3 linked regions of the Homo sapiens genome follow. The protein of the gene in region 2 interacts with the protein of the main gene of each other region in a pairwise test. Each region holds a gene or a part of one and is shown on either strand. Other genes may lie near its edges.

Region 1 (7,241 bases), on a different chromosome or scaffold from region 2:
GCTCCTCAGCTGTGGGAATCTGCACATCCATAAGCCCTGGTGCCTCTCCTTGGGCCTGAAGGCCTTCCTCAGCCTTGTAGCGCTGACTCTTCTGCCCAAGAAGCATGATGACTCAGGTCAGGGCAGCAGGAGAGTGTGGGCCGGAGCTGGGCAATTGAGACCCACAGGCCTGGGGAGAGAGGAAGCGTGTGAGAGGCCTCAGCTGGGTACTACACCCTGGATGCCCTAACAAAGGTCTACTTACAGGTCTTCTTCAGTGCTTCTCTGGGGCCTCCTGACCTCCTGGCTGGCCTGTTCTCTGCGAACCTGAAGGAGAAATTGAGAGGGCATCTCAGGGTGCAGCCTCCTGGCAAAGGCCAAGGCTCCAGGACTGACAAAAGGGCTGGTAGGGCCAGGAACTGTGGGGTTCCTGCTGTTCTGATGCCAGAGGGGCCTCTGGTATACATACAGGGGAAACACCACCTCAGCTTGACTGCTACTACTGCCTGGGCCTCTTATGCTCTGTGATTGAAGATACTGCCTCAGACCAAGACCTCACAGCCTGGTTCCTGGAGCTCCTAGAAGATAAATCGAGGGGAACTCAGGCTGCAGACTGCAAGCACAGCCCCAGCACCCCAGTGCTGTCAGGAGGGTGAGCCTGACTCTGTGAGCTCCCCACTATTTTGTGTGGATGGTCCTTTCTGTGCTCATTCAGGGCCCTCATCTTTCTCCTGGCAGGGCCTGGATCTGGCCCTTTTGCTGGCCTGAGAAACTTTCAGATCAAGAGTTTATATCCCTGATATGGAAGACAAGGATATGAAGGGACCCACATCTGGCCCCACATGCCCAAGGCCTCCTGGGAAAAAAGCAATAGCTACACAAAATGCAATGGGGCCCACGTGTCCTGTCCTAGGGTGAGAAAAAAGCAATAGCTACACAAAATACATTGGGGCCCATGTGTCCTGGGCTGACCTGAGGCCACTTCCTTAATCCAAGGACCTATCTCCAGGAGACACTGGAAGAGCAAATGAGGGGATTCCATCCACCCACCTTTCCCTGCACTTCCCATGGCTGACAGAAGGTGCAGGGTGGGGTTCGGTCCTGTGTGTTTGGTGAGTGGTGTCCTCTGAGTCCCTGACTCCTGGCAGGGCCTTGGACCCCCGCTCTGCTGACCTGAATGCAGTGCCCTCAGACCAAGGCCTTCTTCTCCCTGAGACCAATGAGTCTGGTATAACACAGGGGCCTCAGCTGATAGTCCTGCTCATGCTCTCAGGGGTGACAAAAGAGGCCGGGCAGATTTCTGTTGGGCCCCCATCTGTTTTTTGCCTGCTAGGAGAACCATCGAGGGTACCCTCAATCTTCCCTCAGTGTTGTCACCTAGACTCTTGGTAGATTCTTGGACCACTGAGTCTGTTGCCCACATGGGGGTCCCTGTTTTGTCCTGAGTTGCCCTCTGAGAACAAGGTCCTCACTTCCCTGAGATCTCAAGAGAGAAATGAGGAGCCACCACATCTGATGACCACTGGGTGGGGTGTCCAGGGGTGACACTAGGATCTGTCCCTACTTGTTCTTGAGTGGTGGGTTCTAAGGTCTTCAGGGGGTTATTCATCTTTCCCCTGATGGAGCCCGCCCTTCCTCAACCCACAACACCCTGATATGAGCAGACATCTCCCCTTACCACCAAGACCTTATCTTCCTGCGTTTCCCCAACTTCCTGCCCACAGTACAGATGAGATCTCCACTTAGGGCCACCCTTGATCGGGTTCCCCCAGAGATAATAACCAAAGTTAGCCAGACTTTGTGGGGTCCCTTCTTTCCAGGCCAGGAGTACCCCCATTCATCACAAAGTGAGCACATCTTGGGTCCTGCAGATCCTGTGACCCCGTCCCTCTGTTGAACAGGTGTGGCTCCCTCTGCTGAGCTGAGGACGCCCTTCAGACCCAGGTTGCTACCTCCCTGAGACCCAGGAGGCAGAAGTAAGGAGGCACTACATGGACAACCCTGCATGGGATTCCCACGGCTGACAGAAGTAGTAGGTTTCATGGGGTCTTTCTCTGTCTGGGTGTCATCCAGGTATTCATATTTACTCCACGACAAGGCATGGCCCTTTCCTTCCTGCTGAACCGTGGATGTGTCTTGCATGCCAAGGCCACCATCTCCTTGAGGCCCCCTACCAGAAAGTGGGGGGGCCACATCCCTTCCCCACTGTCCTGCCTTGGGTGCCCAGACCTGAGAGTGGGAGCAGGTTTCCTAGGCCATGATGGGAGGTCTGCTGAGTCCTCCTTAAGGGCTCTGGGGCACCTCTCTCCAGTGATCTGAGACTCCACTCCTCAGACCACAGCTGTCTCCTTTCTGACACCCTGAAAATGCAGCAAGGATGCGCCACATGCAGCCACAGATCCTGGGACTTCCCAAGGCTGAGATCTCCACTGATCTGGAGTCCAAGGACCCCTGAGTCCTCCCTCTTCTTCTTCTCCTTGACTCCTGGCAGGGCTGTTCACCACCCCCCTGCTGACTTGAGTTTCAGTCCCTCGGATTCCTGAGGCCAAATGTGGAGGCCCCTCAGTCTCAGACAGGTAGGGTGGGCCCCCTGTCCTGGGGTCCTGGGTCCCCTCGGGCCTCCTCATCTCCCAGCATAGCCTGGGCCCTCCCTCTGCTCCTCTTGAGTCCGTGCTCATGAAGCCCCTTTGCTGCATCAGCCCCGGATGCGGACGTCAGAATCAGCGAGCCCGGCCGCCATGCCCGGCCGCCATGCCCGGCCGCCATGCCCGGCCGCCATGCCCGGCCGCCATGCCCGGCCGCCATGCCTAGGGCTTCCCAGGGCTGACAGTAGGGGCAGAGATGTGCTCTGTGGAGCCTCAGCCCTCCCTCAGGGTCCTGCCCTTGATGCCTGGCAGAACCTGGGCCCTGCCCTCTGCTAACCAGCCCTGCTCTGGTCACACCAAGCTCTCACTCCAGATTCCCCTGGGGCTTAAGCGCAGGGCTGGCGAGGGGTGGCCCAGCCAGACAAGTCTGCCCCCTGGTGGTCCAGGGCTGGCAGCAGGGGCGGCGCTAGATTATTTTGGGTCCTATATGAGGGGTGGGGGCCTCCTCAGTCCTCCCTCAGGGTCTCACCTTGCCTCCTCACAGACCCTGAGCCCGCTTCCCTCAGCCGATCTCAAGCCGACCCCTCAGAACCAGGCCCTCGCTTCTCTCTGATCCCCGCGGCCACGTCAGTGGCGTCACATCCGTCCACCCAGGGCTCACCTGGGTGGACAACAGGGGCGGAACCGGATTCTAGTGGGGCGGGGGATGAGGGAGGAGCGGTTCAGTCATCCCTCAAGGTTCTCACTTTGAGATCTGGCAGAGCCTGGAGCTCCGTACTCTGCTGATGGTGTCTGCTTCCCTCAGACCAAGGTTCTGATTCCGAGTCCCCTGAGGTGGCAGTGGGGGGAAGGGTGTGGTGGGGGGACAAGGCTGCTGGGGTCTTTCAGGGCTGACATGAGGGTCTGAGCTGAATTATGTGGCCCCTCTATGTGGTGTGGGTGGACCCTCAGTCCTCACTCAGGAGGGTCCTCTTCTTGACTCTTGGCTCTTTTAGGAGATACTCTGTTTCTGTCACCTCTGAGCATTTGCACAGCTGCACCCCTTGCAGAGAATGGCTGCGGGTCCCAGGCCAGATTCTCCCTGTGGGTTTGCAGCACCTAAGATTGTAGTGACCTCTGGGAGAAGAGGCACACCTTCCCACGGGGGCTCTTCCCCAGCTAGAAGAGGATTTTGCAAAACTTTTGTACTAAATGATTTATTTTTACACTGAAGAAACTGAGTAGCTGCAATAAATTTGTGGAAGTCCTGAGTTTTGAAGTTACCTAACAATTCCTATTCCACTTTAGTGATTTTCATAATTTAATTCGCATTCGTATAGTAAGAAACGAATTTTAAATCTATGCCAATTGTATATGTGCATTATATTTATGTTTATATGCATAAACACATATGTATGTATATGTTTATATTATATATGTGTAATTATATGAATGTATGTGTATATATCTTTACATATATTTATACATATATGTATGTCGACTATACGTACTTATTTTATCAAACAATATCTACTCATACAATGTGTGATTCACTCATACTATTCTATTTCTAGTTCATTATATATATTTGATTAAAATAATAGTATTTTGGAAGGTAGTCCTAACCTACTCTTTGTTTCTAGTTGTTATTAGCAGAATTCTGGAGCCATGGTGTCTCAATCAATCCAATTTTCCTGGTGTCCTGATATTACCCCTGGGCTACTGGCTTCGTGTTTTGAGGTGCAGACTCGGATCCTACATTGATGTGGGGTGGTCCTTTAAAACTTTTCCTGCAACTCACCCTGTCGTCTGCAGTGGCTGCAGACCTCCTCAACCTCCCTGCCTCTCCAACTGCCCAGAACACAAGTACCAGTTCAACACAGTTTTTTCCCCAGGGTTTTCTATGTTTTGTTGTTTAGACTTTGTTGCTGATATTGTTGTTTTATTTTTCTTTTTCCCTTCTATATTTTTACACAGTTGATTTTGGGAGTAGAGCACAGCAGCCTGGGCTTGATTGTCACTTTGGCAGCTACAGGTAGGCATTAACTGTTTATTTAATTTAAGTAAGATTTACACCTTTGCTGTATTCTATTCCTCATCAGTGAACATCATATACTACTCCATTTATTTGGGAATTTTTTCTCTGAATCTGTCAGCAAACTTGTACAGTTGCTTCTGTAAATGTCTTGCATATTTTGGTTAGGCTTCTTCTTCTTTATATTTTGGATTTAAATGCTGTTGGGGATGGTATATTTTTCATTTTATGTTCTAAGTTGCTCATCTGTGACAAGTCTCTTGTATTCGCTGCAGTGGTCTTTGTATGCTGTCTTCTGAAGTCTCTTATTCATTTGAATGTTCCATGTGTCTCTTCCTTTGAATTTTCTTGATGGTCATATTGTGAAAAATATGATCTATTTCTTTTCAATCTTCATACCTCTTTTTCATCTTGATATCCATAGCTCTCTTTTTCATTTCAGCATTCACTGCAGCTGTGAACGGTAGCAGTGAAAGCATACATCAATGACTTGCTCCTGACGAGAATGGGAATGCTTCTAACATTTCACATTCAAGTATGTTTCCTGTCAGTTTTAGAAAATTAAAGTGCCTTTTAATCTTCATTTGCTAAAAATGTTAATTTGAAAATATGATAAAATTCATTTCAGAGGCTTTTTCTGTATTTTTATTCCTTGCATACGAGCTGCTTGTTCATTAGTCCACTGTTGTGTTGAATATACAATTATCTATTTAGGACATTTGCTGCAATATGAGTGAACACTTGGCTCATATGTTCTTTTTATAAAGGCTGGATGTCTTTATCTTTTTTTCCCCCCCAATGCAGGAGAAGGAGCCTTGGAGAATTCGTTGAATAATTGCCCGTATTTTGGGATTATTTGGAAGAGTTAATATGGTGATTCGTTTTCCCTGACCACTTGGGGGAACTGACCCACAAAACTGCCTGCCTTAGAACGGTAGAGGGTGGATTGAGCTTTAAATACATTTTCAGTTTGTGGACGTACCATTGGTTTTATCCATTCACCAATTGGAAAAAGTATTGATTGTCAATTTCAAATAAGCTGCTATATATGTTTTTGTGTACGTGATTTTGTGTGTATGAACCTGTTTCCAATTTTCCTTGATAAAACCTAGGAGTACAATTGCTGTGTGTAATGGTAAGTCTAAGTTTTGCTATATTAGAAATAGCCAAAGCCCCTTCTAGAGTGAATGTGTTCTTTTTCTTCTCTACCAGCAATGAAAGAGAATGCCACATCTTTTGTACAATTTGGTATTTTCAGGTTGTTGCATTGTATCAATTGTAACAGGTGGGTAGAAGAATGTTACTGCTGTTTACATTTGTATTTTTATTGAATAATTATGGTAATCATCTTTTCATATGCTTTTTTGTGATCTGTGTATCTTCATTGGTGAAGTCTTGAAATCATTTACTATTTTATTGGACTCTTCATTTTTATGTGGTTGCATGTTATAAGGTGTTTATTCATTCAGTATATGAATCCTTTATCCGACACGGGGTTTACAAGTATTTTCTCCCCATTTTTGGCTTTTTTCCCCATTCCTTTAAGTGTTTTTTTTTTTTTAGTAAACATTTTAGAGTAATTTTAAATTTACAGAAAAGTTGCGAAGACAGTTAAGAGGGTTTTCCTATACATCATGTCCAGTTTCTCCTATTATTAACATCATGCAATAATATGATACATTCTTCATAATTCATAAATCAATATTCACCTGCACATTCCTGTCATTGTTTGAGGATCCCATCTAGGATACCATGCTACTTTAGTCTAAGCTGTGATAGTTTCTCAGACTATTCTTGTTTTTGATGACTTTAACAGTTTTGGGGAGTATCGATCAGGCTATTTGTGGAATTACCCTCATTTGGTATTTGTCTGAGTTTTTTCATATATAGACTTGAGTAATGGCTTTGGGGTAGGAGACCAGAGAGGCGAAATGCCATTCTCATTACACGATATTTTAGCAACATGACTCATCGCTGTTGATGTTGACTGATGAACTGGCTGAGGTAGTGTTGTCAGGATTTCCCTCTGCAAGGTTATTACATTCCCCCCTTTCTGTATTGTGCTTTATAAAAGAAAGTCACTAAGGGCAGCCATTGGGTAGTAGGGAAGTATGGTCCACCTTCTTGGGAAGGGGTAGTATTGACATGAATGATTTGGGATTCTTCTCAATGGGAGATTTGTTTATTCTCCCCCATTATTTGTATTTATTTAACCTTCAATTTGTCTCGGCTGAACTCATGGTAATTTATTATATGTTTGGGGTTATAATTCAACACCACTTTTATTTTGCTGCTCAGATTGTTCCATCTTTGTCCATTGGAAGCTCTTTCAGTTGGCTCTGATGTCCCCTTCACGTAACTGAGCCATTACATTTGTTTGTAGCTCTGTCTTACTTTATGGTATGACAAGATGATGCAGGCTCATTTTTATATTTCCTGTTCCAGTCATAGAAGAGTCAATTTTCCATGGTTTCTGCTTCCTTTTATGGGAGAAGAGTATTGGAATGTGAGAGGTGGGTGCTTGGCATGCTCATTGTTCCTGAGGATTTGTTATTCCTAGCCACCTCAATTCTCAGAGTAAAGATATATATTTTGGTATATTAACCTGTGTATATACACATATCTATAATCAGAATTCTTAAACCCAGTCCCTGTGAGAAATA
Region 2 (8,234 bases):
ACCTCTCTGAAGATGTCCTTTTTGTCAAGGCTAATCCAACTACTTGGAATTCCATTCATTTCCTCAGCATCCTTGATTCAGTAATAACTTTACTTTCCTCTATCATTCAACTTTTCACTATACTCTGTAACTACAATATAATATTTTAATAGCTACTAATCACTAGCGACTTTGGACTAGTGACTAGTGACTGCCTAGTCCACAAATCCAGAGACCTGTCCTCAGTCCTATTCACCTTCAACTTTATAGTACAGTAGCACACCCCTTATCCATGGTTTCCCTGTTCCACGGTTTCAGTTACCTGCAGTCAACAGAGGTCCAAAAATATTAAATTGAAAAATTCCAGAAATAAACAATTCATATGTTTTAAATTGTACACCACACTGAGTGTTTGCTTTAAGTGAAAAGGTAAAAGTTCTTGACTTAATAAGGAAGGAAAAAAAATCGTATGTTGAAGTTGCTAAGATCTATGGTTTTAAAAAAAATCTTCTATACATCAAATTGTGAAGGAAAAATAAATTCATGCTAGTTTTGCTGTCATACTTCAAACTGCAAAAGTTATGGCCACAGTACGTGATTTAAGATGGAAAAGGCATTAAATTCCCAAGTAAAAGACATTAACAGAAATACATTCCAATTGACAGAAACTGGGTTTGGTACCATTTGCAGTTTCAGGGCATCCACTGGGGGTCTTGGAACATCTTCCAAACAGATAACGGGGGACCACAATATTTGATAGCTGACTAATCCCTCACAACTTTTCTCTGTGGACTGAGCTGTCACTGTATTTCTCTTTCTCCAGTCCTGAAAAGCTTAACTTCCTCAATGACAATATTTTCCCTGTTTCCACCCCAAAATAAACCGTAATCTTTAAAAGCATGATTTTTTACCTTCCTTTCTCATGATTTAAACTTCCTTACTTCAATTATCAGAGAATAACTCAAATCTACATTTCTACTGCTAATCTTTTCCCTGAACTTTATACTGATTATTTAACAATATAATGATCAAGCCTACCAAAAGTAGTAAACTTTTTGTGTCTCTGCCTTCATCCCCAATTACATTTTTACCCCCCGTGGTCCCATTTCCTGTTATTTTTAGCGCAAATAGCTCACGACTTTAAAAGATACGGTTTTAATGAAGTAAAAAATTATGCTCCCAAGTTAATACCCAGCTTCTTGCAATTTTAGATTTTAGCATTGTTTTTTAACTTTAAGTATGCAGCGATAGTTTTTTATAAGTTAACTCTTATAAAACCAAAGCGTCACGGAGCTGTGCATTTGCAATTGCAACCCATTTCTGGTCCTCTGCAGAAAATCCAGATTAATAGTAGTAGCTAACGCTCAAGAGCACTAACCACGTACCATATATACCCTTTAAGATCCTCATATACATTAACTCGCTGAGTCTTCACAACAATGTCATGAAACACCTTAGGAACACCTGAGTTTATGTGAGTAATCCATTCTGGAGCTGTGCAACATGGCAGCTCTGAAGTATATATTCATTACAGTATTATCTTTCCCAATTTAAAGAGGACATAGTGTTATTTTTCCCATTTTAAAGAAGAGGTCACTGGGGCACTAACATGTTGAGTCTGGCTCTAGAACCCATACTGTTAATGACTAAAATTATAACACCTCTCAGAAGTTATTTTTCAAAAATATAGTCATAACATATGGTCCAATCAAGTTACCACCTGTACTTGAGAGGAAGAAACCCAAATTCCAGAGCTCTTAATTCCCATTACGTTACTTTGTCAATTAGGCTAAACCAGCCTAATTCAGTTATTGAAGCTAAAAATAGAGCCTCCATGAAAATGTTTCCCTAATTAAACCGTGACTTCTAAAATGTGTTAAATAAGAAAAAATACAATTCCTATATAAATTATCCTATAGTACTTTTAAATAATAAAACAACACTTAAAGGATTTCAAATGAAGAAAATACATACTTTACTGTTTTAATACATTGTTCTTCTGGCTGAGGCTGGTCAAAGCTACACTGATCTTCAAATAAAGGCTCGTCAATGCTACACTGTTCTTCAAGCAACGGCTGGTGAACTTGTTCTGACAAAGGATGGTCGACTTTTCTTGCTTGCTTCCTATGTCTTTCCTCTTCAGCTAAATAGAGATGTTTCAGATTATCTGGGTATCGATCTGTGAATTGAGATTCCAGTGACGTTTGAGCCTTCTTTTCCTTCCGTAGCAATTTCTTGTAACTTTGCTGTATTTTCAGTTTTCTTCGAAAAGCAAAGCCTTGTCCTACATTGAGGAATATCATCCAAAATTACTTTCAGAGAAAAGAAGTTGAACGAAGAATGGAGCTGTTAATTACAAATGAAAACTTTTTTTACGTCATCACATTCAGATTCTAGTATTATATTTTGCTTTAAAAAATTATTTCAAGCAACAAATTTAAGCTGATGGATTGCATAGTAAGTTGGCCCTTTGCAAAAAGACCAGGCTAACAGTCATGCGGAAATCCAAGTAAGAATCTCAAAGAAAAACTGACCAGTTCAGACTGTTGCACAACTTGAGTTTACAGCTGTATTCACAAATCAAAACAAATTCCTTAGTTCATCTAAAACACTTAATCTGAGCCTTCAATAAATGCTTAAAAAATAGGAAAGAAAATGCCACATCTAGTATCTTGGACAAACTACATGTTTTCGAAAATGTTTCAACACGAAAGAAAAAGACAGTGTATGGTTGTCTGAAAAGCTAGCAATTATCGGAAGACTGAATTTAACATTTATATATTCCAAGTGGGATCTAAGAGACCTTACAGACAGCAATACAAAATGACAAACACAAATTAAAGCGAAGGCTGGAGGGCCTCGGGTATTTGTAATAAGGAAGAATTCGGAGCAGTGTTTCTGGCCCTGTCCTCCTCTCTATCCTTTACCTTACCACATGCGCAAGAGTTCACAGGGTCATAGACTCTCTCTGCTCAGTTTCTCAGGAAAAATATAGGAAAAAAGTTCTGATGAAATACAGGGTTACGTCAGAAAAGACGTTTAAATAATAGCAACACTGCTCCGTCTTCCTATCTAGAGCTCTGCGAAGCTCACAGCTTTAGCGGGCTCAGGAATGAATTCCCTTGCCCCAAGTAGGACCGGGTCTGGTTCCTAAATCCTTCTTCCAAGCTTCAGCGAATCTTATATCCTAAAACTTAGCAAGCCTGAGGATTTGCAAATGGTTGCCTTCTTACATACCCTCGCGAACGCTCCCCACGAAGGCTTGCGGGTGGTTAGGCCGCCATGTCTTCTGTCTCACATTCTTATTCCTGTACCCGACAGTGGAAACCCCTTCACCACGCGCCTCAATACCACCAGGCCGCCACTTCGCGGACCGCCTCACCGGCGCCATTGCAGCCGACTAACTGCGTCATCAGAAGACCACGACGGACGCCCACAAAATACGTCACCAAGCCGAAGCAATCAATCGCTCAGAAGGAATCCGGCTCGGAGCTCTACTGAGCCTGCCTGTGCTAATTTGGGCCGAGCTGGCGCCTCACGGCCATGTTTGCGCCACCTACAGCCTCGGAGGGTGAGCGTCATGGCGGCTTCTTGCCCTCTCCCGGTGACCCCGGACCTGCCCACGCTGCGTGCCAAGTTGCAGGGACTGCTGCAGTTCCTGAGGGATGCCCTGTCCATTTCCAATGCACATACCGTGGATTTCTACACAGAATCCGTGTGGGAGGAGCTGGTCGACTTGCCACCGGAGACAGTGCTGGCTGCGCTGAGGAAGTCAGCGTCGGAGACGGAGGCCCTGCCCTCAGAGACGCGCCCCCTAGTGGAAGCAGAGTGGGAAGCAGGTGGGTGGTGGGGTAGGCGGGGCGGGAAGGGAGGCGGAGGAGAAGGTCCCGGCAGACGAAGCGAGCCCCCTGGTGGAAGCCAGCAGAACCAGGTGCGTGGCGGCGGAGGCGGGGCGGCCCGCTGGGAAACCGAGGAGGGGTCGGATTAGTTGAGGGGTGGGGTGGGGATGTTCTTTGGAATCAGGATCACTCTTTCTTTGGGTGCTTGTGTATGTCCACAATTTAAAGAAAGCAGGAAACAGGGCAGGGGAGTTCCTTCATCTAGTAATTCCATAATAATTGACGCTAGGGAAACTAGGGGAGCAGTGCTCTCACAGGTTTTATAAATGCCAGCATGTGGTGGAAGATTACTCAACAGTTAATAAAGATAATTTCAAGTGGTGGTAATGAAGTAGAAAATAAAAACAGTGTAATGTGGTAGGGATTGTGTAAGGAGGCTGCCTCAATTTAGGAGGTCAGGAACATGAGAAGGCACTAGCTGCAGAGCCACAGGGAGGGGTTGCAGGCGGTGGGAACCGCAGGCTAGGCTTGGCTCTAGCCAGGTGAGGGGCTGCAGGTGCAGGACGGGAGGCAAGCAGAGGCCAGATGGCACAGGCCTTTCTAGGCCTTGGAAGGATTTTGGATTTTAAGTGTGACGGAAACCCTTGGGATTATTTAGGCAACATAGTGACCTAATTCACATTTGAAAAGATAACTGTGAATTATTTGAAGAATAGACTAGGGCAAAAGCTGAAGCTGAGAGGCCAGTTAGGAGACTACCTCAGTAGTACAACAGATGATTGTATCTTGGACTAGGATGGTATTCGGATAGTCACTATTTCATTTAAAAACTATTTTAAAGTACCTAATATGTGTCTTGAATTTTTGTAGGCTCAAGCTTTTCCTACCCTCAAGAAATGTAGATTCTTCTCAGGCAAGCATATTTTGGAAGTAGAATGATGGACACCAACAGGCTTCTGGGATTTTTACTTTCCTTCTAGACTTCCCAAAGTTACCCTTACTAGTGAACTTTATTCATTGAGCATTCTCTGAATGCAAAGCATCACTAGAGGGACCTCTTATAATAGCACTTGGTAAATACTGTTGTTGTTTTTTTAAGTAATTGTTATTGAAAAGTTAGGCACTTCTTCAGTTTGCTCTCATAATAAATATATGGCACTTATGATATGACAATTTTACTTAAACTCCAAAAGAGCAGAGTCTTTGTCTGACTTGTCAACTGATGTATTCCCAGCACTTGGTAAAATACTTGGCATACATTAGATACTGGATGAATATTTGTTGAATGGAGGAATTAATGAGTTACTCATGTTAGTTTTAAATAAATAAAATGAAACTACTCTCAAGTTTAGAGTGTAAGACTTTAATACGTGTTTAGCCTGGTCTCCAGACAATGGTAGAGTCAGATTGTCTTACATATTCTAATAATAATTGGATTATTTGATATTTACTATATACCCTGTAGTGTGCTAAGTGTCTTCATGTGTATTTTCTCTTTTAATCTTTACATCAGCCTTGCAAGATAGGTTCTGTTATTGTCGATTTGTGGAATTATAACTTGAGGAGTTAATTTGCAAGGGATATAGCTGATAATGGAAGATTCTCAAACCTGGGTCATCTGATTTGAAACTTTTTTAGTGCTGTAAGAAAAAAAGTATACTAGATAAGGGAGGAGTAAGTAAGGGGAAGAAGAGGAAAATGTTTGCATTTTTAAGTAAGTTGTCCTGGCAAGACCTCACTGAGGTGACTCTAACGCTGAAAAGATAAGAAAAAAACCGAGCCATGAAGATCTCTGGAGGGAAAGCAGTCCATTTAGTGACAACAGGAAACAGAAATGCCCTGACGAGGGAGCCTACAAGGTATGTTTAAGGAGCTGTAAGGAGACTGAAATAGATTTCCACTAGGGACTCACAAGGAGTATGGTCTTGTGTCCGGAATTGTTAGGTTCTTGGTCTCACTGACTTCAAGAATGAAGCCACAGACCCTCTCAGTGAGTATTATAGTTCTTAAAGGCGGCGTGTCCAGAGTTTGTTCCTTCTGATGTTTGGATGTGTTCGGAGTTTCTTCCTTCTGGCGGGTTCGTGGTCTCGCTGGCTTCAGGAGTGAAGCTGCAGACCTTTGCGGTGAGTGTTACAGCTCACAAACGCAGTGTGGACCCAAAGAGAGAGCAGCAGCAAGATTTATCACAAGGAGTGAAAGAACAAAGCTTCCACAGGGTTGTCGCTGCTGGCGCCAGCAGTCTGCTTTTATTCTCTTATCTGACCCCACCCACATCCTGCCGATTGGTCCATTTTACAGAGAGCTGATTGGTCCATTTTGACAGGGTGCTGATTGGTGCATTTACAATCCCTGAGCTAGACATGAAAGTTCTCCTAGTCCCCACTAGATCAGCTATACACAGAGCACTGATTGGTGCATTTACAAACCTTGAGCTAGACACAGGGTGCTGATTGGTGTATTTACAATCCCTTAGCTAGACATAAAGTTTATCCAAGTCCCCACTAGACTCAGGAGCCCAGCTGGCTTCACCTAGTGGATCCCACGTTGGGGCTGCAGGTGGAGCTGCCCACCAGTCCCATGCCGTGCGCCCGCACTCCTCAGCCCTTGGGCGGTCGATGGGACCAGGCACTGTGAAGCAGGAGGCGGTGCTCGTTGGGGAGGCTTGGGCTACGCAGGAGCCCACGGTGGGGGGGAGGGGGACTCAGGCATGGCGGGCTGCAGGTCTTGAGCCCTGCCCCGCAGGGAGGCAGCTGAGGCCCGGTGAGAATTCAAGAGCAGCGCTGGTGGGCCGGCACTGCTGGGGGACTTGGTGCATCCTCCGCAGCTGCTGTCCTGGGTGCTAAGCTCCTCACTGCCTGGGGCCAGCGGTGCTGGCCGGCTGCTCTGAGTGCTGGGCCTGCCAAGCCCACAACCACCCGGAACTCGCGCTGGCCAGCAAGCGTGGCGCGCAGCCCTGGTTCCCACCCGTGCCTCTCCCTCCACACCTCCCTGCAAGCTGAGAGAGCCAGCTCCAGCCTCGGCCAGCCTAGAGAAGGGCTCCCACAGTGCAGTGGTGGGCTGAAGGACTCCTCAAGCGTGGCCAGAGTGGGCGCCAAGGCTGAGGAGGCGCCAAGAGCGAGTGAGGGCTGCCGGCACGCTGTCACCTCTCAGTCTTCTGCTGATATTTTGTGAGGAGTTACAAGTAAACATAATTCCCAGAGCGCAATGCACAGTTTGGAAAAGCACACTAACAGATGTTCGGCACAATCATTTGGTGTTTTATGGAACAAAGTTTTTTCTAAAAGTCCTCAGTGTGTCCATTTCAGTAGGTTTCATGTGCCAGGTGATCTTCTTGTCTCATTAGAGTCCTAAGAGTTTCTTCTTCATTGTTCGTCTAAAAAGAACTAGAATAAAATATTTAATTCTCTAAAATAAAAAGCAAATATGTTAGAAATAACTATCTTTTCAGTGCATAAATTATGGCTTTCCAGACAGACTTCCTGGGGTCAAATATTGACTCCAGCACTTAGTAGCTGTGCTAACTTGGGCAATTTACTTCAACTCGTTGTACATTAGTTCCTCATCTGTAAAATGGGGGTAACTTTAGTACCTGCCTGATGGGATACTGTGAAAGGTAATTCAGCTAATATATAGAAAGGGATATCTTTCACGTGAAGTGAACAGCAGGTGCCCAAGCTGGAGCACGCTTGGTGCATTTTAAACACAGCTGAGCAGTCTTGGTGAGACCGGTGAGAGATGGCATTTGGAGGTAGCCCAGGACATCCTCACATAAAACTTGTAGGCTGTACTCAGTATTTGGCTTTTATTCTGAGTGAAATGCGAAGCTCTTTGAGAATTTTGTGTGGTGATGTGATACCGTGTGATTTATGTTTCAAATCACCTGGTTTCTGTGTGGAGAAGAGAAGGTAAGAAAGGTGAAGGAAATTAAGGGAAGAAACAGGAATACAATATAAGAGGCTATTAAAATAGTCCAGGGACATTTCAAGGAACAGTAGCTTGAAGAGGTCAGATTCCCCTGCAGATAACAATGATGAAAACTGGCCAGATTATTAAAAACAACTGTAAGATTCTGGAAAATGCCAAAGGCAGAAATATAAGAAGAGGTTACTATTGAAAGACTGTGATTGATTGGGTAGGAAGTCAGAGTTTATGGCTTTCTTGCTAGAGATGCTCCTAGCCCCTGTAGATCTAGCAGTGGAATACCACATCCTTACCAGGTCAAGGTGGTGATGGCAAAATTCAGAGATCGGAGCAGGTGCAAATTTAAGACGTACATTCTGGAAACAGGAGATACAAAAGGTCTGAGATCTAAGATCTGAGTATAAACGCTGCCTGAATCCCCAAATGATCTCTTAACTCCACATGCCTGGGAGACCTAGAGATCCTAGCAGAAACACTGGCAAAAAACTTTTGAGA
Region 3 (8,040 bases), on a different chromosome or scaffold from region 2:
GCCTCACAGGGTCGGCTGACCGCTTCAGGCCCGTGCTCCTACCTCCCGTCTCCGTCTTGGTTTCCTCGCAATTCAAAGGGAGCTGCTGAGCTCCCGCTGTTCTCTGCTTTGTAACCCGCTCCCTCAGGTTCCCTCCTACCCCAGGCCCCTTCCCGCCAGAGGGCGCCCCTGGAGTCGGTGGAGAAGGTAGGGGCTCTAAATACAAAAATTCAAGACGAGTTGAATCTTGGCTTGAACTGCGTGACAGGAAAATAGGCAAGTTTGGAGACCACAGGTGTTAACTTCTAGTGGGGCTTGACCCGACAGAGGAGCAGATTCTTCAACACCAAAGGCCTAAGGGCCGGACTCTCTTCGCGGACTCTGGCCCTCATAGACGCGCCCTCGCCTCCCATACCCTCCGTAGAGCATGCCTGTGAGGGAAAGGGAGAAGCAGAAGCCGCGCTCGGATGACTTGGCGCCCCACCCCCCAGCCTGCCCACAGGCCACGAATTGAGAAAAGCTTTCCCAAAAGGAAAGTCCTCTCAAAGGCCCTAGACGGTCAAATCGGGAAAGGGAGCAGTAGAGGGATCCTTCCTCCCGCTGCGTCTGTGAAAGCCGCCTGTCTGCACGCCCCGGGCTCCCGCGGTCCCTCCCGAGGATTTCGGTTCTGGTGCCTGAGAAAGCAGCGCAGAGGGGGCCCTGCGAGACCCCTCCAGAGAAATCATCCCCCGGAGGCATTCCTCGGATCTTGGGGTTGCGGAGCAGCGCCCCCCAGCGCCCAGTTACACTCCTGCCTTCCGCTCCCTGCGCCTGGTTGCCTCGATGGCACTCGCGAGCCCAGCTCAGCCCGGCTTAGAAGCCTGTGCCTAGCTGTGGGAGACTGCGGGAGCAACTGAGGGGCCCAAGTGTTTCTTGTTGAAGGTCAGAGGCCTAGAGTCACAGTTTCTCTAAATCCAAAATACAGAATCAGAAGGAATAACTCCTTCTATTAGCGACTTTTGTGATCTACAAACTCAGGCACATGATCTCATCCTGAATTGTTTGGATCCCTAGCACAAACCAAGCCAGTACACAGGGCAGGTTGTGACCATTTTTTACAGCTCAGGAAACAGGTGCTCGGAGGCTGTGTTTCCTCAGCGTTTCTCGAGGCACTGGGGGGTTCAAAGATAGATAAAACAGGGGCTCACCCTCAAGGAGGGAAGCCAGAAAACACACACTGGTTTACTCTGGCTGTGATGGGAGTGACTCCAGGGTGTGGCGGGAGCCCACAAGAGCGGTACTGCACAGCTGGAAAAAGGCAAAGCCAGGGTTCAAACCTAGGACGGACTTCCACTCAAGGACTCCTCTCACGACCTTGGAATGCTGAGAGATCAAGAAATGGTGCAAAAACCCACACACGAATCTCCATTACAACCCTCTCTATCTCACTGGATCCTAGAGTAACATCTGTCAGAAAGTAACTACATATTATTTGGGTGATTTATTGTGAATGTGTAAGTTCCGTGTGAGTAGGAGCTGCATCTAGATTAAGTTTGAATTTTCAGGCCTTGCGTAGTCCCTGGCACAGAGCCCTAGCTGAATAAATACTGTCGAGTGAATCAAAAATTGCGATAAAACTTGGAGCAAAATAACACTACCAGGAGACAGAGTGGCTCAGCGCCCTAAACAGGTGTGGAGGACCACAAAGGGAGTTAGAAAAAGCAGTTGGGGGGTGGGGCGGTGAGACAGGTGGTTCCTCCTCACAGTTCCACCTGGTCCAAGCTACAGACCCCAAATTAGCCTTCTTTTGTATGAGCCCTCTGTTCTTGTCTCGCAAAGTGACACTGGAGGGAGAGAAAGGAGTTTCCCTGCGGCCACGCTGGTGTAAGCAAAGGCTGATGGCGATTCCGCGCATCTAGGGCCGAGCCTGGGCCTGCGCCCCCTCGGATTCCTGGCGGAGCCGCAGCCAGCGAAGCAGAGCGTGGTCGGAATAGAGGCAGCGACCGTGTGAGGTCGCGCCAGGGAAAGCTCCGCGAGGGGCCAGCGTTGGGCCCTGCCCTGCCCTGACCGCTCCCCACTGTGCCCACTCCACCCGGGAGCAAGCTAGTTGCGGGATAAAGGAATACGCGCAGACTTCGCAAAGTGCAATCGGGGTTCTTCGTATTCATGGAAAAAAAAATCACTGGTTTAGCCCGGGTCTGCCCTATTTAGGATGAGTCCAGGAGGCGGCGGAAAGAAAGGACGCTCTTCGGTCAGAGGGAGGTGTTTCGGGCCATGGGAGGGACTCTGGAGGCCTTTGCTTGGATAAGCTTGGAGATACAGATGTCCTTCTCTTCCCTACAAGGTGCGTTAGTCTCCGGGCTTATTTTCGGCAGTGCAGTGGTACTGGGGAAGAAGGCAGAGCCGCGTGTTGAGAAGGGGCTAGGGTAGTAGAGGCGCTGGAGCCTGGGCGGCAGGGCGCTGCAAAGGCCCAGGCGAGGTGGATAGAGAGCTTGCTGGTGCGCGCGAGAAGCACGCCTGCAGGCAGAGGTTGAAGCGCCGTCCCAGTTGTGTCCCAGAGTGAAGCGGGAGTCTTTGCCCGCCCCAGCCACTTCGAGCTCCACTCCAGTTCAGCTCCCAGAGTCGCCACTTGCTGCGCGGTTGTTGGGGAGGGGGTTCCTGGTCCAGAACGAGACGTGGGGGGCTGGGGGTTTCCTCGAGAACTGCAGGCCTGGTTGCCCCCGGACTGTCAGAGCCGGAGGCCGGGGAGCTGCCAGCCACGTGCGCCTGTGGCCTGCTGAGAGGTTGAAAAGCTGCCAAGGGACGAAGGCCGAGAAGACAGGACCTAGGGGCTGTGGAAGATTCACCCAACTCTTCCTTTTACTCAGGTCTTGGGACCTAAGAGGGGGTGGGGATAGTCATGATAATAACTACCGCAATCTCCAGTGCTGGCACTGAGCTGAAAAACATTCAAAGCTTTCAAAGCATTTTGATGTGCTTCATCTTACTTGAATCTCACAAAAACCTTGTGAAGATTGATCTCCATTTCTAAATGGCGTTGAGACTGGAAGAGATGTACAACATTCTACACTTGGTGTTCCTTAAACTTACAAACAACTATGAAATAATGGCGAGTGAGAGAAAGAAGCTGGGTGACTGGGAAACCCACCCCGCCTTCGCAATTAGACCCCATTCGGGACTCAGGCCCGGCCAGGTCGCGCCTGCAGACAAGGTCTGTATTCAGCGTTGCCAGTTCTCCTCTGTGGTTCGCTTAAGCCCGGCGTCGCCTCCCCTCCTTGCTTAGCCACCACAGTGATCAATGCTCAGTTCGTCGGGGCCTGAGAGCGCCCCCCAGAGAAGCCCCTGGGAAGGAAGGGCAAGGAGCCGGGCTTCGCTCTGGTCTTTCGCAACACCAGCGGCGAGCGCGTCTCCCTGCGCAAACGTAGGGTGGCCTCCCCAGCTCTGCCGTGGGGACCGCACAAAAACGCGGGCGCAGGTGGGAGGGCGGAGGGTGTCCTGAGCTTTCTTTACCCTGGTAAAGAAGGTAGGCGGTGAGAAAAGCGAATGTTATTATAGAAGTTGGCTTTGTATTGAGGGAGTAAGAGCTCTCTTCAAGGAGAGGGCTGAAATCTTTAAAAATAAATAAAACTTTCTCTACTGTAATTGCTATTAATAAAAAAAGGGAGCCCGGATGAATTAAGTAGCTCAAAACTGCCTGTTCGTCATGATCAGGAGCTCCTTCTCTACAAGGAGGGGAAAGAAAATGTGAAAACAAAAACTAAATTCAAGAAGCTCCTTGACCAGCGCGGGTGTCTTGGAGGCACCTGCCGGGGCCGGCCGGGGAGCGCTCCGCCCTCCCAGCCCCTGGCGCGCAGAGGAGACTAAAACAGCTAAGGAGAAAGCAAAACAAAAACAATGATAAAAACGTTTAAAATCCAAGGACAAAAACCGGAGTCGGTCTCAAAATCCGCGCCGTTCAGTGCTCCACTCGGTAGTCGACTCGGCTGCAGGCCCCGGCCTGGCCGGAGCAACGCGGGGGACACCCCCGATTCCGCTGGGGAGCGCAGCCCACAGCTCCCCCTCGCCAGGCGCCCAAGGACCCTCAAGGCGCGGGGCCCACACTTGAAGCCTGGGAACGCGCAGACAGGAAACCCTCTTCCTCCTAAGCAGTTTCTTGCTCGTCGGATGAGAGGCGCCCAATTGAAGCAGAATGATCCTCATCTACTAATATCCAGCGTGGCCACAAAGCGACTGGCCATTTACGCCACCACTTTAAACAAAGATATTTGGTTATTCCCGGGAAGCAAGAGCACTTTTGCATGGCTGAGCTGCGGGCGGAGGCGAGCCTCGGCCCAGCCTCCCGCCCGCTGAGCTGCCCGCACCTCGGCATTCGCCCCCTCCTGGCCAGCGCTCCAGCCGCCGGGGTTCAGGCTCAGTTCCGCCCGGCAACAGACAGACGGGCACTCACGCCGCTCCCTGCTCGCGCGCTCCCTGAAGCATCAGAGGGGAAAACAGCGTGGCTCTGGGCTCGGGTGCTGGGGCTGTGATGTCCTCGGAAAGTCAGCTCCAGCCCCAGATCCCCGCGTGTCTGGGAGATGGGCGAGGGTCAGGGACACCAGGTTTGTTCGAGGTGGGGCAACTTCAGTGACGGACCCTCCCGTGAGACCCCTTCCCATCCTCCCAGCTCTGGGGGCCAGTGCTGTGTTTGCTCGGCCGGGGGTGGGGGGGGGGGGGGAAGACCTTGGGGGAGGCGTGTTAGCGGGGGTGGCCCACTGAAAAACCCCTGAGCTGCGGGGGCGGGTTGTGGCTCGGGGATCCGGGACAGCCTCCGGGAGGCAGTCGATCCCCTACTCAGCGCCCCCTCCGCCCGCTCGGATTCTCTCCGGTAGGGGGAAAGGGGGCGGGGAGCAGAGGTGTCCCTCTGACGGCGGCAGAAGAGAGGCAGACAGACTGACAGACACGTAGACCAACAGTGCGGCCCCAGGGTTCGTCCCCAGACTCGCTCGCTCATTTGTTGGCGACTGGGGCTCAGCGCAGCGAAGCCCGATGTGGTCCGGAGGCAGTGGGAAGGCGCGGGGCTGGGAGGCCGCGGCGGGAGGGAGGAGCAGCCCCGGCAGGCTCAGGTGAAACCCCCACCCTGTCCCTCAGCCCCCTCCTCCTAAAGACCTGTCCGTGCCCGGGGAACCCCGACCGAATTGGAAAGTGGTTCCACTTTGTAACTCCGCAAGTTGGTTGCAAAGCAGCATTCACCTTCCTTCCTCTCAACCATCTCTCCTCCTCTGTTACTCCCCCACCCCACCTCCTGCCCTCCCCGCTCTCGGTTCCCTCCTCCTTCCCCTCCCCTCCACCTCCTCCCCGCGCTCCGCTGGTACCCCACAAAAAATGGGGGTGGGGGTGTCCAAGGGAGGGGGGAAATGCTTTGGGTCTCGTCTCTGCCTCTCTCTCTCTCTCTTTGAGACCTAAAAATCCTGACAAGTGAAACTTAAAGGTGTTTACCTTGTCATCAGCATGTAAGCTAATTATCTCGGGCAAGATGTAGGCTTCTATTGTCTTGTTGCTTTAGCGCTTACGCCCCGCCTCTGGTGGCTGCCTAAAACCTGGCGCCGGGCTAAAACAAACGCGAGGCAGCCCCCGAGCCTCCACTCAAGCCAATTAAGGAGGACTCGGTCCACTCCGTTACGTGTACATCCAACAAGATCGGCGTTAAGGTAACACCAGAATATTTGGCAAAGGGAGAAAAAAAAAGCAGCGAGGCTTCGCCTTCCCCCTCTCCCTTTTTTTTCCTCCTCTTCCTTCCTCCTCCAGCCGCCGCCGAATCATGTCGATGAGTCCAAAGCACACGACTCCGTTCTCAGTGTCTGACATCTTGAGTCCCCTGGAGGAAAGCTACAAGAAAGTGGGCATGGAGGGCGGCGGCCTCGGGGCTCCGCTGGCGGCGTACAGGCAGGGCCAGGCGGCACCGCCAACAGCGGCCATGCAGCAGCACGCCGTGGGGCACCACGGCGCCGTCACCGCCGCCTACCACATGACGGCGGCGGGGGTGCCCCAGCTCTCGCACTCCGCCGTGGGGGGCTACTGCAACGGCAACCTGGGCAACATGAGCGAGCTGCCGCCGTACCAGGACACCATGAGGAACAGCGCCTCTGGCCCCGGATGGTACGGCGCCAACCCAGACCCGCGCTTCCCCGCCAGTAAGTGAGGCCGCCCCACTGCGGGGCCGCGGGCTGAGCTCAGGAGGTGCGGCGAGAGCCGTCCAGAAGGCGCGGCGCCGGCAGGCTGCGCGCTGGGCATCAGGGAGGGCGGCCCGGCAGCGGCGCCAGGGACTTGGGTGCGGGAGCTGGGGATGCTTCCCCCTGCTCGGCTGGGGGTCCAAGAACAGGCACTTGGTAGCGCTGGGGTCCTGCGGTCAGATGCGGGTACTCGGCGTCTCCTAGGCGCGGTGGACTGGCAGCTCTGCTCGGCGCAGAAGACCTCGGGGAGCCAAGGGAAGCGACCCCGAGCTCAAGGAGCAGGGGCGAGCAGAGCGCGGAGAGGCTAGACCGGGCCAGGAGGGAGGCTGCCCTGTTGGGAGGCACTCGAGCGCCCGGCCCGGCCCTCTCTCCAGCGGAGTCTGGGCAGGTGGGAGGACTCGCAGTTCCAGAGGGGACTCTAAGGGTCCGAGCAGGTGCCCTCACTGGGGCCTGACAGGAGAGAAGCCAAGAGGCAAAGCGTCTGGGGGCTCCAGCTTTTGGAAGTCAACACCCCCTCTCCTAACCTCTCCAAACTGGGGTCTACCGTAGGACCCCAGCTCCCGGCCTGAGCCCAGTTCGCCGCCTGTGGCCAGCTAATCCTAATGCTCTGACCCGGGCTGGGCACGAAAGGAGCAGAAGCGGCCTTTCCCCCACTGCGTCTTTTGGTTCGAAAGAGGGAACTGAGACTGAGGGAGGGCAGCCAGGGTTGGGGCTGTGAGCGCTCCAGTACAGCCCCCTCGACGGTACGGCCTGGGGCAGGCGCTGGCAGTTCCCCGCGGATGGGCCTCTTGGGCCCCAGCGCTAGGCTGCCTGGGTCAGGAGGGCGCCGTCGGTTGGGGCGGGCCGGGCGGGCCAATGGCGCGGAAAACAGGGGTGGCCTGGCTCGGCCTGGCCCCGGCCGACGCTGTGCGTTTGTCGCTTACAGTCTCCCGCTTCATGGGCCCGGCGAGCGGCATGAACATGAGCGGCATGGGCGGCCTGGGCTCGCTGGGGGACGTGAGCAAGAACATGGCCCCGCTGCCAAGCGCGCCGCGCAGGAAGCGCCGGGTGCTCTTCTCGCAGGCGCAGGTGTACGAGCTGGAGCGACGCTTCAAGCAACAGAAGTACCTGTCGGCGCCGGAGCGCGAGCACCTGGCCAGCATGATCCACCTGACGCCCACGCAGGTCAAGATCTGGTTCCAGAACCACCGCTACAAAATGAAGCGCCAGGCCAAGGACAAGGCGGCGCAGCAGCAACTGCAGCAGGACAGCGGCGGCGGCGGGGGCGGCGGGGGCACCGGGTGCCCGCAGCAGCAACAGGCTCAGCAGCAGTCGCCGCGACGCGTGGCGGTGCCGGTCCTGGTGAAAGACGGCAAACCGTGCCAGGCGGGTGCCCCCGCGCCGGGCGCCGCCAGCCTACAAGGCCACGCGCAGCAGCAGGCGCAGCACCAGGCGCAGGCCGCGCAGGCGGCGGCAGCGGCCATCTCCGTGGGCAGCGGTGGCGCCGGCCTTGGCGCACACCCGGGCCACCAGCCAGGCAGCGCAGGCCAGTCTCCGGACCTGGCGCACCACGCCGCCAGCCCCGCGGCGCTGCAGGGCCAGGTATCCAGCCTGTCCCACCTGAACTCCTCGGGCTCGGACTACGGCACCATGTCCTGCTCCACCTTGCTATACGGTCGGACCTGGTGAGAGGACGCCGGGCCGGCCCTAGCCCAGCGCTCTGCCTCACCGCTTCCCTCCTGCCCGCCACACAGACCACCATCCACCGCTGCTCCACGCGCTTCGACTTTTCTTAACAACCTGGCCGCGTTTAGACCAAGGAACAAAAAAACCACAAAGGCCAAACTGCTGGACGTCTTTCTTTTTTTCCCCCCCTAAAATTTGTGGGTTTTTT

The links.
Region 1: the proteins of CCDC59 (region 2) and MAGEA8 interact in binary tests that used the Homo sapiens proteins (3 or more experiments, as listed by UniProt).
Region 3: the proteins of CCDC59 (region 2) and NKX2-1 interact in binary tests that used the Homo sapiens proteins (3 or more experiments, as listed by UniProt).

What each region holds. Positions count from the first base shown.
Region 1 is NC_000023.11:149,877,138-149,884,378, reverse strand, and holds the start of MAGEA8 (melanoma-associated antigen 8), read right to left. Parts: upstream 3,197-7,241; 5' UTR 3,094-3,196; intron 2,012-3,093; exon of another isoform or gene 1,881-2,011; intron 1,309-1,880; exon of another isoform or gene 1,030-1,308; intron 558-1,029; exon of another isoform or gene 307-557; 5' UTR 245-306; intron 170-244; 5' UTR 107-169; coding exon 1-106. UniProt on the Homo sapiens protein: Not known, though may play a role in embryonal development and tumor transformation or aspects of tumor progression.
Region 2 is NC_000012.12:82,355,007-82,363,240, forward strand, and holds the start of CCDC59 (thyroid transcription factor 1-associated protein 26), read right to left. Parts: upstream 3,382-8,234; 5' UTR 3,371-3,381; coding exon 3,217-3,370; intron 2,264-3,216; coding exon 1,954-2,263; intron 1-1,953. Other genes in the region: METTL25 (probable methyltransferase-like protein 25), read left to right, coding at 3,560-3,818. UniProt on the Homo sapiens protein: Component of the transcription complexes of the pulmonary surfactant-associated protein-B (SFTPB) and -C (SFTPC). Enhances homeobox protein Nkx-2.1-activated SFTPB and SFTPC promoter activities.
Region 3 is NC_000014.9:36,517,073-36,525,112, reverse strand, and holds the start of NKX2-1 (homeobox protein Nkx-2.1), read left to right. Parts: upstream 1-4,880; 5' UTR 4,881-4,983; coding exon 4,984-5,060; intron 5,061-5,433; exon of another isoform or gene 5,434-5,742; coding exon 5,743-6,128; intron 6,129-7,092; coding exon 7,093-7,835; 3' UTR 7,836-8,040. UniProt on the Homo sapiens protein: Transcription factor that binds and activates the promoter of thyroid specific genes such as thyroglobulin, thyroperoxidase, and thyrotropin receptor. Crucial in the maintenance of the thyroid differentiation phenotype.